2 separate regions of the Homo sapiens genome follow, and region 2 is linked to region 1. A link means that fine-mapping ties the variant in region 1 to the expression of a gene that starts in the linked region. Tissue or cell type: whole blood. Region 1 holds a variant in brackets; the other region holds the start of a gene. All regions are shown on one strand. Distances are between the middles of the regions.

The links. PIP is the estimated chance that this variant, and not a neighbour inherited with it, causes the effect.
Region 2: DPP7 starts here. The variant in region 1 is fine-mapped to the expression of DPP7 in whole blood (TOPMed, PIP above 0.99).

What each region holds. Positions count from the first base shown.
Region 1 is chr9:136,997,660-137,005,659 of GRCh38, reverse strand. No RefSeq gene overlaps it. Among named protein-coding and RNA genes, the nearest start is that of CLIC3, 5.1 kb to the right of the region's middle. RefSeq lists an enhancer at 5,375-5,494. The variant T/C (reference allele first, on the strand shown) is at 4,435.
Region 2 is chr9:137,110,143-137,118,142 of GRCh38, reverse strand. DPP7 (dipeptidyl peptidase 7) reads left to right here and starts at 3,410. Exons shown (of 13, transcript NM_013379.3): 1 at 3,410-3,496; 2 at 3,567-3,680; 3 at 3,761-3,900; 4 at 4,115-4,278; 5 at 4,647-4,782; 6 at 4,856-4,937; 7 at 5,024-5,190; 8 at 5,338-5,398; 9 at 5,913-6,031; 10 at 6,114-6,270; 11 at 6,389-6,453; 12 at 7,193-7,263; 13 at 7,360-7,597. The coding sequence starts at 3,430. The coding sequence ends at 7,495. LOC124902314 (a long non-coding RNA gene) reads right to left here and starts at 3,344. Exons shown (of 2, transcript XR_007061874.1): 1 at 1,099-3,344; 2 at 365-972. RefSeq lists silencers at 3,185-3,534, 3,565-3,714.

The sequences.
Region 1 (8,000 bases):
CATGTGAAAGCAAGCAGCTGTGACCTGCCAGCCCCGGCCCTGCAGCCTCCTTCCCCCAAGAGCCGCCAGGGTAGCCCAGAGTTAACAAAGGGTACAGCAAGGCTTTTCAGGGCCCCGGTGGCCCAGGCATGCCCTTTTTTATTTTTTATTATTATTTGTTTGAGGAGACGGAGTCTCACTCTCTTGCCCAGGCTGGAGTGGGGCACAATCTCGGCTCACTGCAAGCTCCGCCTCCCGGGTTCACACCATTCTCCTGCCTCAGCCTCCTGCGTAGCTAGGACTACAGGCGCGCATCACCATGCCCGGCTGATTTTTGTGTGTGTGTGTGTGTTTTTAGTAGAGATGAGGTTTCACCATGTTGGCCAGGCTGGTCTCTAACTCCTGACCTCAGGTGATTGCCCCAGCCTCAGCCTTCCAAAGTGCTGGGATGACAGGTGTGAACCACCGCGCCTGGCCAATTTTTGTATTTTTAGTAGAGATGGGGTTTCACCATGTTGGCCAGGTTGGTCTCGTGTAGGGACCAGCCCCACAGGGTCGGTGGGTCTCTCCCCATGTGCGGTGACGAGACAGTGTAGAAATAAAGACACAAGACAAAGAGATAAAAGACAGCTGGGCCCGGGGGACCACTAACACCAATGCGTGGAGACCAGTAGTGGCCCCGAATGTCTGGCTGCACTGTTATTTATTGGATACAAGGCAGAAGGGGCAGGATAAGGAGTGTGAGCCATCTCCAATGATAGGTAAGGTCACGTGGGTCACGTGTCCACTGGACGGGGGCCCTTCCCTGCCTGGCAGCCAAGGCAGAGAGAGAGAGAAGAGACAGAGAGAAAGACAGCTTATGCCATTATTTCTGCATATCAGGGACTATTAGTATTTTCACTAATTGACTACTGCTATCTAGAAGGCAGAGCCAGGTGTACAGGATGGAACATGAAGGCGGACTAGGAGCGTGACCACTGAAGCACAGCATCACAGGAGACGGTTAGGCCTCCGGATAACTGCGGGCAGGTCTGACTGATGTCAGGCCCTCCACAAGAGGTGGAGCAGAGTCTTCTCTAAACTCCCCCGGGGACAGGGAGACTCCCTTTCCTGGTCTGCTAAGTAGCGGGTGTTGTTCCTTGACACCTTTTGCTACCGCTGGACCACGGTCCGCCTGGCAACGGGCGTCTTCCCAGACGCTGGCGTCACCGCTAGACCAAGGAGCCCTCTGGTGGCCCTGTCCGGGCATAACAGAAGGCTCGCACTCTTGTCTTCCGGTCACACCTCACTATGTCCCCTCAGCTCCTATCTCTGTATGGCCTGGTTTTTCCTAGGCTATGATTATAGAGCGAGGATTATTATAATATTGGAATAAAAAGTAATTGCTACAAACTAATGATTAATGATATTCATATATAATCATATCTAAGTTCTATATCTGGTATAACTATTCTTGTTTTATATTTTATTATACTGGAACAGCTCATGTCCTCGGTCTCTTGCCTTGGTGCCTGGGTAGCTTGCCGCCCACAGTCTCGAACTCCTGACCTCAGGTGATCACCCAGCCTTGGCCTCTCAAAGTGTTGGGATTACAGATGTGTGCCACCATGCCCAGCCAATTTTTGTATTTTTAGTAGAGATGGGGTTTCACCATGTTGGCCAGGCTGGTCTTGAACTCCTGACCTCAGGTGATCGCCTAGCCTCGGCCTCTCAAAGTGTTGAGATTGCAGGCGTGAGCCACCGTGCCTGACCAATTTTTGTATTTTTAGTAGAGATGGGGGTTTCACCATGTTGGCCAGGCTGGTCTCGAACTCCCAACCTCAGGTGATCTCCCAGCCTCGGCCTCCCAAAGTGCTGGGATGACAGATGTGAGCCACTGCACCCGGCCCTAGGCATGCTCTTTAGAGTTTTTCCAAAAAACCAGGATCAGCCAGGTGCTGTGGCTCAAGCCTGTCATCCCAGCACTTTGAGAGGCTGAGGTAGGCAGGTCACCTGAAATCAGGAGTTCAGCTTGGCCAACATGGCGAAACCCCATCTCTACTAAATATACAAAATTAGCTGGGCATTGTAGCGCCTGTAATCCCAGCTACATGGGAGACTGAGGCAGGAGAATCACTAGAATCTGGGAGGCGGAGGTTGCAGTGAGCAGCGCTCCAGCCTGGGTGACAGAGTGAGACTCCGTCTCAAAAAAAAAAAAAAAAGAAAGAAAGAAAAGGCTGGGCATGGTTGCTCACACCTGTAATCCCAGCACTTTGAGAGGCCGAGGCGGGTGGATCACTTGAGGTTGGGAGTTCAAGACCAGGCTGACCAATATGGAGAAACCCTGTCTCTACTGAAAATACAAAATTAGCCGGGTGTGGTGGCACATGCCTGTAATCCCAGCTACTCGGGAGGCTGAGGCAGGAGAATCGCTTGAACCTGGGAGGTGGAGGTTGCGGTGAGCTGAGGTTGTGCCACTGCATTCCAGCCTCAGCGACAGAGTGAGACTCTGTCTCAAACAAACAAACAAAAAAAGGAAATAAAAATCCAGGATCCAACCACGAGGCACTCCTTGTGTCTTGCTGCCTTCCCCGGGGCCCCTCTGAGCCGTCCCCAGCCTTGGCGTTCTTGCCCTTCCAGGGGGACAGGCTCCGCAGGCCCAGGCTGAGCTCTGGATGTGTCTTCATTTCCTCCTGGCTGGATGCAGGTTGGACATTTTTGGCCGGAGCAGCACTGGGACACGCTGTGTCGGTCACCTCCAGGTGTCCATCTGTCCCTCAGCAGGTGATGCTGAATGTGGCCGCCTGGTTGAGGCCCAGTTCTCCCTCCCTTAGATGTGGGAACGCAATCTGGGTGCTGCGTGGCCGCGCCCCCCGACCCCCGTCACCCAGGGCCAGCAGCTGCAAAATGGCCATTTCCTGCCTCTATTCCATTTCTGCATCTACTGGCTGGCATTTCTCTCTCACCAAGGGCCCCTCCACTTTAAAAAGTCTATCAGTACAGACTTGCAGGTTTAAAAAAATTAATGTGTTAACATGCATTACTGTCATCTTTTAATTACTTATTTTGAGACAGGGTCTTGCTCTGTCACCCAGGCTGGAGTGTGGTGGTGCAATCATAGCTCACTGCAGCCTCCAACTCCTGGGCTCAAGTGATCCTCCTGCCTCAGCCTCCTTACAGGCATGTGCCACCACACACGACTAATTTTTATTTTTATTTTTGTATAGATAGGGTCTTGCTATATTGCCCAGGCTGGTCTTCAACTCCTGAGCTCAAGGGATTCTCCCACTTCAGCCTCCCAGAGTGTTGGGATTACAGGGGTGAGCCACTGCATCTGGCTCTTTTAAAATTTTTTGATGGTGGTAAAATCTATGTAACATTTATCACGTTAACCATTCATAACGCACAATCCACTGTTGTCTTATGCTCAGATGGCCTGAGGTCCAGCCAGCGGTGCCCCTCCAGCAGGCGCCCCTCCAGCACGGCTTCTGTGTCTTCGTAACCAGCTCCTGATGTGTTTTGAGTGCGTCCCTGCCTTCCCTGCCCCACACCTGGAATCAGCCTCTCTCCAAGGAGCCTGTCTCAGTCCGACCAGGACTGCTGTGCAAAGGACCCTGGACGGGTGGCATTCATGCCTCACAGCTCTGGAGGCTCGAAGTCCGAGGTCGGGACGCCAGCATGGCTGGGTTCTGGCGAGGGCTCTTCTGGGTTGTGGACTTCCCTTGACTCCTCACCTGGCAGGAGGAGCGAGGGAGCTCTCCGGGGTCCCTTTTATGAGGGCGCTGATTCTGGTCATCTCGAGGGTGTCACCTTCATGACCTACCCACCTCCAAAAGACCCCGCTTCTTTTTTTTTTTTTTTTTTTTGAGTCTCGATCTGTCACCAGGCTGGAGTGCAGTGGCGCAATCTTGGCTCACTGCAAGCTCCGCCTCCTGGGTTCATGCCATTCTCCTGCCTCAGCCTCCTGAGTAGCTGGGACTACAGGCGCCTGACACCACGCCCGGCTAATTTTTTGTATTTTTAGTAGAGATGGGGTTTCACCATGTTAGCCAGGATGGTCTCGATCTCCTGACCTTGTGATCCGCCTGCCTCGGCCTCCCAAGGTGCTGGGATTACAGGCTTGAGCCACCGCGCCCAGCCAACCCCACTTCTTAACACCATCACCTTGCAGGAGACAGGGTTTTGTTTTGTTTTTTTTTTTTTTTTTGAGACAGAGTCTCGCTTTGTCACCCAGGCTGGAGTGCAATGGAGTGATCTCGGCTCACCGGAAACTTTGCCTCCCAGGTTCAAGCGATTCTCCTGCCTTAGCCTCCCGAGTAGCTGGGATTACAGGCATGTGCCACCACGCCCGGCTAATTTTGCATTTTTAGTAGAGACAGGGTTTCCCCATTTTGGTCTGGCTGGTCTGGAACTCCCAACCTCAGGTGATCCACTCACCTCGGCCTCCCAAAGTGCTGGGATTACAGGCGTGAGCCA[T/C]GTGCCTGGCCTAGGGGCCAGGGTTTCAACACACAAATTTTGGGGAGGACACATTCAGTCCCTAGCAGAACCCTGGTTCCTTTTAGGGAAGATGGGCTTTGGGACCAGAATCTGAGCTCTGGTCTGCACACTGCTCCCGAGGTCTCGCTGCCCCCGAGGTCCCGCCGCCCCCGAGGTCCCGCCGCCCCCGAGGTCTCGCCGCCCCCGAGGTCACGCCGCCCCCGATGTCTCGCCGCCCCCGAGGTCTCACCGCTCCCGAGGTCTCACTGCTTCTAGGCTCTCTCCATGCACAGAGCAGATAAATCTCTGCACAAGTTTGCACCAATACCCCAATGCCCCCAGCCCTCCGGCCCCCCAAACAGGTGTGTGTCTCCCTTCAGAACAGAGCTGCTCAAATGTCACTGGGGTGTGGCCCTGTGCAGGCGGAGGCAGGAGGATCACTGGAGCCCAGGAGGTGGAGGCTGCAGTGAGCTATGACTGCGCCATTGCACTCCAGCCTGGGTGACAGAGTGAAACCCTGTCTCAAAAAAAAAAAAAAAAAAAAAAAAAAAGAGCCCCTTGGAAGGGGCCTACAGGGAGGGGTGTTGGGGAGGGAGAGAGTTCTAACCCACCAGTCAGTCAGTCCCAGAGCAGCAGCCTCGGGACCTCAGCTTGGGCCCCTCTAACGCTGGCTCTATGAATCAGGAGCAGGGGCTGCAGGGGACGGGAGGTTTAGGGATAACCCCGTGGCCTCGGGGACCAGGGTCTAGTTAAGGTTAGTGGCTGTGATACTGTTCTTACTTCAAAACATTATGAAATTGTGGTAGAAAATGTGGTATTACAAAAATGTGGTAGAAAATGCAAACAGTGTGGACAGACAGGAAGCAAAACTGAAAGCCTGTTTCTGCCTGTCAGGGGTCATCCCACAGACAGCTCCTTGCGTCTTTTTTCAGCTCTGTTCAAGTAGAGACTCAGAATGACAGATCCTAATGCTGATTTTCTTCCATTTCCTGGCTTCTCCCTGCTTTACTTATTAGCTTGCTGGCGCTGCCATGCAAAGGACCACAAAGTGAGGGGTTTAAAACAACAGAAACTGACTTTGGGAGGCCGAGGTGGGCGGATCACTTGAGGTCAGGAGTTTGAGACCAGCCTGACCAACATGGTGAAACCCCGTCTCTACTAAAAATACAAAAATTAGCCAGGCGTGGTGGTGGGCGCCTGTAATCCCAGCTACTCGGGAGGCTGGGGCAGGAGAATCGCTTCAGCCGGTGAGGCGCGGGTTGCAATGAGCCGAGATTGAGCCATTGCACTCCAGCCTGGGTGACAGTGAGACTCCATCTTAAAACAACAACACCGCGGGGCGCGGGAGCTCACGCCTGTAATCCCAGCACTTTGGGAGGCCGAGGCGAGCGGATCACGAGGTCAGGAGATCGAGACCATCCTGGCTAACGCAGTGAAACCCCGTCTCTACTAAAAATACAAAAATTAGCCAGGTGTGGTAGCGGGCGCCTGTAGTCCCAGCTACTTGGGAGGCTGAGACAGGAGAATGGCGTGAACCTGGGGAGGCAGAACTTGCAGTGAGCCGAGATTGTGCCACTGCACTCCAGCCTGGGCGACAGAGCAAGACTGCATCTCATTAAAAAAAAAAAACAAAAAAAACAGAAGCTCACTGCCTAGCAGTCTGGAGGTCAGACATAGCACCTAGGCTTGGGCAGGGCTGCTTCCTCCCAAGGGCCTTGGAGAGCATCCGCTTGGCTCCCAGGCTTACAGATGTGCCACCCTGATTTCTGCCTGCGGCCCTCCCTGTGCATCTGTGTCCAAACTCGCCTTTCTATACTGACATCAGTCATATTGGATCAGGGCACATCCTACTCACCACATTTTAACTTGATAACTTCTATAAAGACCCTATTTCAGCCGGGTGCGGTGGCTCACACCTGTATTCCCAGCATTTTGGGAGGCCAAGGTGGGTAGATCTTCTGAGGTCAGGAGTTCGAGACCAGCCTGATCAACATGGTGAAACCCTGTCTCTACTACAAATACAAGGAAAAAAAAAAAAAGCTCAGCGTGGTGACGTGTACCTGTAATCCCAGCTACTCCAGAGGCTGAGAAAGTAGAATTGCTTGAACCCAGGAGGCAGAAGTTGCAGTGAGCCGAGATTGCACCACTGCATTCCAGCCTGGGCAACAGAGCAAGACTCTGTCTCAAAAAAAATGTTAAAAAGCCCCTGTTTCCACATAAGGTCACATTCTTTATTTTTTTTCCAAGATGGAGTCTTGCTCTGTTGCCCAGGCTGGAATGCAGTGGCACTATCTCTGCTCACTGCAACTCTGTCTCCCGGGTTCAAGCACTTCTCCTGCCTCAGCTTCCCGAGTAGCTGGGATTACAGGTGCCTGCCACTATGCCTGGCTAATTTTTGTATTTTTAGTAGAGACGGGGTTTCACCATGTTGGTCAGGCTGGTCTCAAACTCCTGACCTCAGGTGATCCACCCCCCTCGGCCTCCCAGACTGCTGGGATTACAGGCATGAGTCACCGTGCCCGGCCCATATAAGGTCACATTCTGAGGCACTAGGGGTTAGGACTCCAGCCTAAGAATTTAAATTTAAGGGGACACAAGCCACGCCATTTACCTAATCTCAGGCCCTCCCTGCAGTGGGCATGCATGGAGTCACCTTTTCCGTCCTTCTCCCTGGACACAACTGGAGTCTCCCATAGACAGGGTGGTGGCCGTGCCACGGAGCCACGCCACGCCACGCCACGCCACGCAGTGGGGCAGCCAGCACTCACTTGCCCTTCACAGGGAAACCGGCCGGGTGTGGCAGCTCGCGCCTGTAGTTCCAGCACTGTGGGAGACCAAGGCAGGTGGGTCACTTGAGCCCATGAGGTGGAGACCAGCCTGGGCAACATGGCAGGACCCTGTTTCTAGTAAATAAATGAATTGATTAAACCATAAAAAAAAAAGGAAGCCACCGGGCTGATTCCCAGGTGGCGAGGGCACAGGGGGGTGTTGGATGGCCACTGCCGCTCCACAGTCCACAGCCCACGCCCACAGAACGCAGTGGGGCCGCTGCAGCGGTGAACCGAGTCTTGTTGGTTTGTTTCTTGAGACGGGCGTGAGGTGAATGGTCTTCCTGTGTCTTGTTTTCTTTTTCCTTCTGAGCCACCGGTTCACGGCCTCTGTCCGTGCCGTCATTTTTCCTGTGGGTTTGTGAGGGTGCGTCTGTCGGTGTTAAAGACACAGGATGCCGGGGCAGCAGAGGGGGCTGGGGGCCTGGGGCTTCTCTGTGGTTGGCCATTTGCCTGCCAGGGATGTGGGAAACCAGCAAGCGGAGCTATAACCACAGTGTCCAGAAAGAGCTGAAATACTAGGGCTTGGAATCGAGGTGGAGGCCGGATGGAGGGAAATTGAGGTTCAGGACACCAAAGGATGGGGCAGCCACATGGTATTTCCAAGGCTCTGTGTCCAGGAGCCCCGACTGGCGTGGTATCCAGAGAAGCATCAGGCTGGGCTGACTGGGGCAGCACTGGAGTGTGTTCCACCGGGGACGGATGAGGGGCCCGTACCAAGGCCCTGGGGAGAAGGTG
Region 2 (8,000 bases), 110 kb before region 1:
GGTGGTGGGTGCCTGTAATCTCAGCTACTCCGGAGGCTGAGACAGGAGAATGGCCTGGACCCAGGAGGCGGAAGTTGCAGTAAGCCGAGATCGTGTCACTTCACTCCAGCCTGGACAACAGAGTGAGACTCTGTCTCGAAAAAAAAAAAGGACAAAATGCTGTAGGATTCCACTGATATGACGTACCTGGAGTCAGCAGAGCCACAGAGACAGATGGTAGAATGGTGAGTGCCAGGGGCTGGGGTCCATTGTTTAATGGCTACAGTTTCTACTGGGGGTGATGAGATAGTGGAAAATAGTGATGACGGTGCACAGCGTTGTGAAGGCAGGAATGTACCTAATGCCACCAAATTTCACACGCGGAAGTGGTTAAGTGGTCAATTTTATATTATGTATAATTCAGCACACAGACCAGCACGGCCCCAAGTGCGGATGCAGTAGGTCACGGCCAGCCGCCCGCCGATAGCCTTTCAGTCTGAGGGACAGCACAGACGTGATGTGTGGCCGGGCATGGCCCCCAGTCTGTGAGCCATAGAGGGTGGGACTGGGTGTCCCAGCAGGAATCGGGGTGTGGAGGAGCTGCCTAGATGGTCTGGAGAGGGCAGATGGACCTCGAGGGGAGGGTTTGGGCTCAGCAGCCTCTCACCCTTGCTGGCCAGGCTCCCAGGATTCCCTGCCCAGGGACCTCTCACCCCCTCAGCTGGTGGCTCTGCAGCCAACCTGCCCGTCTGTGCTGCTCCGGGGATGGGCAGAGAGAGATCGGGGGTGTCTGCACAGGCATGGGCAGCCTAGGCTCACTTGCCCCTTGGGTGACCTACTGTGCCCTGCACAGGCTGACGAGGGCCCTGGCGATGCAGACCTGGGGTCCTCCTGCAGAAGTTGGGCCCCTTCACATGTCAGGTTGCTGTGCCAGTGAAGGGGTGGCCAGCCCCTCCACACCTGTGGGTGTTTCTCGTCAGGTGGGATGAGAGACTGAGAAAAGAAATAAGACACAGAGACAAAGTATAGAGAAGGCAGTGGGCCCAGGAGACGGCGCTCAGTATACGGAGGACCCGCACCGGCCCCGGTCTCTGAGTTCCCTCAGTATTTATTCATTACCATTTTCACTATCTTTGCATGAGGAATGCGGCAGCAGAGCAGAGGTCAGCAAGAAAATGTGAGCAAAGGCATCTGTGTCACAAATAGCTTGAAGGGAAGGTGCTGTGCCCGGATGTGCACGTAGGCCAGATTCATGCTTCTCTCCACCCAAACATCTCAGTGTAGCAGAGTAACAGAGCAGCATTGCCGCCAGCATATCTCGCCTCCAGCCACAGGGCGGTTTTCTCCTGTCTCAGAATAGAACTAATGTACGATCGGGTTTTACACGGAGACATTCCGTTCCCAGGGGCATGTCGGAGACAGAAGCCTTCCTCTTATCTCAACTGCAAAGAGGCCTCCCTCTTTCACTAATCCTCCTCAGCACAGACCCTTTATGGGTGTCGGGCTGGGGGACGATCAGGTCTTTCCCTTCCCACGAGGCCATATCTCAGGCCGTCTCACTGGGGGGAAACCTGGACAATACCCAGGCTTTCTTGGGCAGAGGTCCCTGCGGCTTTCCGCAGTGCACTGTGTCCCTGGTTAATGGAGAATGGAGGATGGCGATGACTTTTACCAAGCATACTGCCTGCAAACACATTGTTAACAAAGCACATCCTGCACAGCCCTAAATCCCCTAAACCTTGAGTCAATACAGCACATGTTTCTGTGGGCACAGGGATGGGGCTAAGGTTACAGGTTACCAGCACAGGCCTAGATGCCTTAAACCTTGATTCCATACAGCATATGTTTCTGTGGGCACAGGGATGTGGGCAGGGGACTGTGGCCACCCTCACCCCTGGCAGAGCCATGCTGGGTAGCCCCATGCCCACCCTTCCCGGCTTGGGAGGCCCTGGCTGCTGCCCAGAGGGGCATCAATGCCTGGGCCGTGGACAAGAGGGAAAGTGGCTTCCTTGGAAACCCTGCTCCTGGAGCCCTCCCTGAGGCTCTGGCCCCTCTGTGGGCCCAGCCAAGCCTGGAGCGTCTCCAGGCTCTGGTGTGCTTGGGGAGCTGGCCAGCTCTCGGCCTAGCTGGCGTCTCCAGAGCTGCGGTCCTGGGTGAGGGTTGCTGGTGGAGTTCTGGCCACCTAAGGCACCCGAGGGAGCCAAAGGAGCAGAGGTGTGGGGTGGGGGACGCCGTGGGGTACCTCCACATCCAAGGAGGTCTGCTGTTTGTCCTCACCCCCGTCCTGCGGGGGCCCCGGCAGGCAGCCCCAGGAACTGCGTAGGGATGGGACAGGGCCCAGATGTGAGGGCCGTGGTGGGGACGGTGTGTGGCCCTGGATGACCTCGTGTTGCAGTGTGACGTGATGGTCACTGCCACCATGCTGAGGGCCCCAGCCACCAGTCACCCACCATGGGGGGTGCCTCTGTGTGAGGCACGGGAGGGCCATGGCGTGAGGGGCTGTGGAAGTGGCCGGTCTTCTCCGCTCAGCCCCACACAGGATGGGCAGGGCAGGGTCATGCTGGCCGAGGGTAGTCTTGGGAGAAGGACAGGGTAACTCTCTGTAGCTGAGCCCCTGCTGCCCCTGCACCTGTTCTGGGCCTGGCTAGCGGCCCATGTACATCCCCAGCAGGACTCCACGTAGCTAGTCTGGCACCCACCACTACGGCCCCCTCACCCACTCCCTGAACTGGACGCTGGGGAAAGGTGACTTCTTCCATCCTCTGGGTGCTCCCCAGGGAGGAGGCCCCAGCTCCCAGCAGAGGCCTCTGGTCCCCCCTTGTCCCTGCAGGGCTGTGTGGGCACACTGGGTGCCAGTCGGAAGGGCAGGTGGCGATTCCCAGCTCTTGGGAGCTACCCGGCCACATCCCGGCCCTGCCCAGACGCTCCAGGGGCACCCCACACTCCTGCCCGCTGCGAGGCCCCGCCCCGCCAAGCCCAGCCCGTTATCGCTTGGACAAACCCTGGGTTGCTTTCTTCGGGGGGCCAGCACTCTGTTTGGGACCCTCTCCCTCCCGCCCTTAGGGCAGCAGAACGGCCCCCACTCTCCCGGCCCTGCCTTGGAGTGGGGCACCTGCCAGGAGCAAGTGCTGGGGAGGCTTGGCGGGCGCAGCAGGGACTCGCCCTAGCGCAGCTCCGGATGGGGCCGCGGTAGGAGGACGAGCCAGTGGGGCGGGAGGCCGCGGAGATGGCCCGGGGGCCCTCTGCTTCCCCGCGCCGTGCCCGGGAAGGACCCCTGGGCAGCGGCCGCGGGGCGCGGGGTGTTGGGGGGCACAGCCCCGGCGCGGCGCTGAAGCAGCGACGGTCTCCGTGGGGACCGCGGGCGCCCGAAACACGTGGGGCCTGGAGGGAGGAGCGCGCCCTGGCGGCCCCGTGACCCCGCCCACGTGACGGGCGCCCGCGGAAGGCGACATGGGCTCCGCTCCCTGGGCCCCGGTCCTGCTGCTGGCGCTCGGGCTGCGCGGCCTCCAGGCGGGGGGTGAGTGGCGGCGCCCCCCGGCCCATTCCCCGGTCCCGGCCCCGCCTCTGAGGTTCGCGTCCCCCCACAGCCCGCAGGGCCCCGGACCCCGGCTTCCAGGAGCGCTTCTTCCAGCAGCGTCTGGACCACTTCAACTTCGAGCGCTTCGGCAACAAGACCTTCCCTCAGCGCTTCCTGGTGTCGGGTGAGACCCCGGCCCCGGCCCGGCCGCCCCCGCCGTCCCGCCGCCCCCCGGCACCCTCGCCTCATCCGCCCTCCCCACAGACAGGTTCTGGGTCCGGGGCGAGGGGCCCATCTTCTTCTACACTGGGAACGAGGGCGACGTGTGGGCCTTCGCCAACAACTCGGCCTTCGTCGCGGAGCTGGCGGCCGAGCGGGGGGCTCTACTGGTCTTCGCGGAGCACGTGGGTGCCGGGCGGGGTCGCGGGCGGGGTCGCGGGGCACGTGGGTGCCGGGCGGGGTCGCGGGCGGGGGTCGCGGGGCACGCGGGTGCCGGGCGGGGTCGCGGGCGGGGGTCGCGGGGCACGCGGGTGCCGGGCGGGGTCGCGGGCGGGGGTCGCGGGGCACGCGGGTGCCGGGCGGGGTCGCGGGGCCGGGCTCAATGGCACGTTCCCCCAGCGCTACTACGGGAAGTCGCTGCCGTTCGGTGCGCAGTCCACGCAGCGCGGGCACACGGAGCTGCTGACGGTGGAGCAGGCCCTGGCCGACTTCGCAGAGCTGCTCCGCGCGCTACGACGCGACCTCGGGGCCCAGGATGCCCCCGCCATCGCCTTCGGTGGAAGGTGGGCGCCTCCCCCGGCCTCCGCACCCCCTCCCTCCCCTGCCCCGACCCAGCGCCCCCAGCCCTTCTCCCCACTCCCCTCTGACTCCCACCGCTGCCTTTTCGTAAGGCCTCAGGCAGTGGTTCCAGGCTTAGTGTTGCCTCCCCCAGGAAGCCCTCCCACCTGTCCTCCCAGCCACCTGCTCAGCTTGGATGTGCGGCCACACTAGCGGCCTTTCCCAGTGAGAGCTGCACCCGCACCTGGCCCAGGGTTGGAATTTGTGGGTCTCAGAAGTGTCGTCCTCCTTGTGGCACCTGTGGGCCCCTGAGGAGGAAAAGAGGAAATGGGGTGTTGGGGGCAGCAGCCCTAACCCTGTGTCCCTCACCCAGTTATGGGGGGATGCTCAGTGCCTACCTGAGGATGAAGTATCCCCACCTGGTGGCGGGGGCGCTGGCGGCCAGCGCGCCCGTTCTAGCTGTGGCAGGCCTCGGCGACTCCAACCAGTTCTTCCGGGACGTCACGGCGGTGAGTGAGGCTTGGGGTCCTCCAGGCCCCCTAAGGGACAGCAGCTGCAGTCAGCACGGTCTCTTTCCCCCAGGACTTTGAGGGCCAGAGTCCCAAATGCACCCAGGGTGTGCGGGAAGCGTTCCGACAGATCAAGGACTTGTTCCTACAGGGAGGTGAGGTCCTCCCACCGCCTCCCACTGCCTGACCCGCCCCAGCGCCAGCTATGCCCAAACTTCAAGTCTCTGCCCCTTCCACGCAGCCTACGACACGGTCCGCTGGGAGTTCGGCACCTGCCAGCCGCTGTCAGACGAGAAGGACCTGACCCAGCTCTTCATGTTCGCCCGGAATGCCTTCACCGTGCTGGCCATGATGGACTACCCCTACCCCACTGACTTCCTGGGTCCCCTCCCTGCCAACCCCGTCAAGGTGAGGCGCCGCCTCCCAGGGCGCAGGGAGAGGCCGGCTGGAGTGTCCCGAGGCTGGTGGTCAGCGGCCTGACCCTCATCCTGGGAGCCAGGGAGGCGGAGCTGGTGGAGGGGACCCCGCTGAGTCGCCGCTGCCCCTGCACTCCAGGTGGGCTGTGATCGGCTGCTGAGTGAGGCCCAGAGGATCACGGGGCTGCGAGCACTGGCAGGTGCCCTTCCCCCGGCCCCAGATGGGCAAGTGTGGAGACCCCAGGCTTGGCTTGGGTCCTGGGGCCGGGTGGGGCGAGGATCCGCAGCCCGGCCAGGGGCTTTGCCTCCTGCCCCAGGGCTGTGGTGGGGTGGACAGCACGACCTTCCCAGAAACCCTGGGGGAGGCAGGGGCCGTCCCTGGGGACCCTCTCAGCACTGGCTGTAGCCAGGCCCAGCTTGGTGGGTGCTGCCCAAGGGGCCCCTGGGGTCCCCAGCATGGAGGGCAACAGAGGGCAGCAGGCCCCACCCTGCCCCGTGGAGAGCGGGGGGGCCCTCAACAGTCAGGCCCGGGGCTGGCAGCACAGACACCGCCGACCTCCAAGCAGGTAGCCTGGAGGGCCTTCCTCACTGGGACCTACAGATCCCAGAGCCCCAGATCCCCTGCAGGACCATTCCGAGGGGGGACAGGTTGGTGGCCGGAGCCCGCGGTGTGTCTGTGTGTGGCCGCTGGGCCCCAGCGCCTCTCCTCCCCAGGGCTGGTCTACAACGCCTCGGGCTCCGAGCACTGCTACGACATCTACCGGCTCTACCACAGCTGTGCTGACCCCACTGGCTGCGGCACCGGCCCCGACGCCAGGGCCTGGGACTACCAGGTGTGGGGGTGTGGGTGGCCTGGAACCACTCGGGGGCAAGGGTGGGCGTGGGCTGGCCTGACTCAGGCTGGGGCACCTGCAGGCCTGCACCGAGATCAACCTGACCTTCGCCAGCAACAATGTGACCGATATGTTCCCGGACCTGCCCTTCACTGACGAGCTCCGCCAGCGGTACTGCCTGGACACCTGGGGCGTGTGGCCCCGGCCCGACTGGCTGCTGACCAGCTTCTGGGGGGGTGGTAAGGCTGAGGGGGGGTGGGCCAGCGTCCTGCTTTCTGCCCCGAGCTCTGCACCCCCTGCCCATGGCTCACAGCCCCCGTGAGGGGCCCACATCACAACTTTCTCTGCCCCTTGCAGATCTCAGAGCCGCCAGCAACATCATCTTCTCCAACGGGAACCTGGACCCCTGGGCAGGGGGCGGGGTGAGTCCTGGCCTGGGCCCTATGACCCCGTTAGTTTGTTTGTTTTTTTTTTGAGACAGGGTCTTTCTCTGGCGCCCAGGCTGGAATACAGTGGCGAGATCAGGGTTCACTGCAGCCTTGACCTCTGAGGCTCAAGCCTCCCAGTAACTGGGACTACAGGCGCTCACCAACATGCCCAGCTAATTTAAAAAAATATTTTTTTGTAGAGACACAGTCTCACCATATCGCCCAGGCTGGTCTCGAACTCTTGGGCTCAAACGATCTTCCCCGCATGGCCTCCCAGAGTGCTGGGATCACAGGCCCCTCGCCTGCCCCTACCCTGCTCCCGTCTCACCCCCAGAGTGCTGGGATCACAGGCCCCTCGCCTGCCCCTACCCTGCTCCCGTCTCACCCCCAGAGTGCTGGGATCACAGGCCCCTCGCCTGCCCCTACCCTGCTCCCGTCTCACCCTCAGAGTGCTGGGATCACAGGCCCCTCACCTGCCCCTACCCTGCTCCTGTCTTACTCCCAGAGTGCTGGGATCACAGGCCTCACACCTGCCCCTTCCCTGCTCCTGTCTCACCCGGTTTTGCCCCCATCATCTCGTCACTTCCCACCTCCGTCTCTGGCTGGTTCTCTCTGGTTGCTTGATGGGCACTGAGTCTCGGCTCGCCCTCTCACGTCTCCTCTCCAATGGGCCCACGGAGGCTGGGCAGTTGCCTCGTTCCTCACCTGATGGAGTTCTTTCCACTGACCACAGATTCGGAGGAACCTGAGTGCCTCAGTCATCGCCGTCACCATCCAGGGGGGAGCGCACCACCTCGACCTCAGGTGCGGAGGGAGGTGGCCTGGCGGTGGTCGCGGGTCGGGCGGGACAGGCTCACCGAGGGCTGGGGCTGACGGGCCCCCTCTGTGCCCGCTCCCCAGAGCCTCCCACCCAGAAGATCCTGCTTCCGTGGTTGAGGCGCGGAAGCTGGAGGCCACCATCATCGGCGAGTGGGTAAAGGCAGCCAGGCGTGAGCAGCAGCCAGCTCTGCGTGGGGGGCCCAGACTCAGCCTCTGAGCACAGGACTGGAGGGGTCTCAAGGCTCCTCATGGAGTGGGGGCTTCACTCAAGCAGCTGGCGGCAGAGGGAAGGGGCTGAATAAACGCCTGGAGGCCTGGCCATGTATGTCCCGTCCTTCCTGTCTGTGGGGCCCACACGCAGGCTGTGGGAGCGGGACCCTCGGAGACACGGCTGGGGACGCGGCGCACCCCACACAGGCCGGGTATGCCATGTGCTCCACAAGGTAGAGGCTCCACAACGCTCAGGTCTGCTCCTTAGGGCAGCGGGGGGCAGTGCCCCGCAAGGAAGCCCCGCTCTGCTGAGCCGCAGCAGACAGAGGCTGCAGCCACACCTCCAAGGTGACTCCTTCCCTGACATCCTCTGTACACAGCGACCCCTCCAGGGGAGGCCACTGGACAGTGCTTTTGGCCCCCAAGGGGCATGCAGTTGCTGTCCCTCCACCCTCTGGGACCACGCCCCCAGCACGTTAGTCTCGGAGGTCTGGGTGAGATGGAGAAGGTGC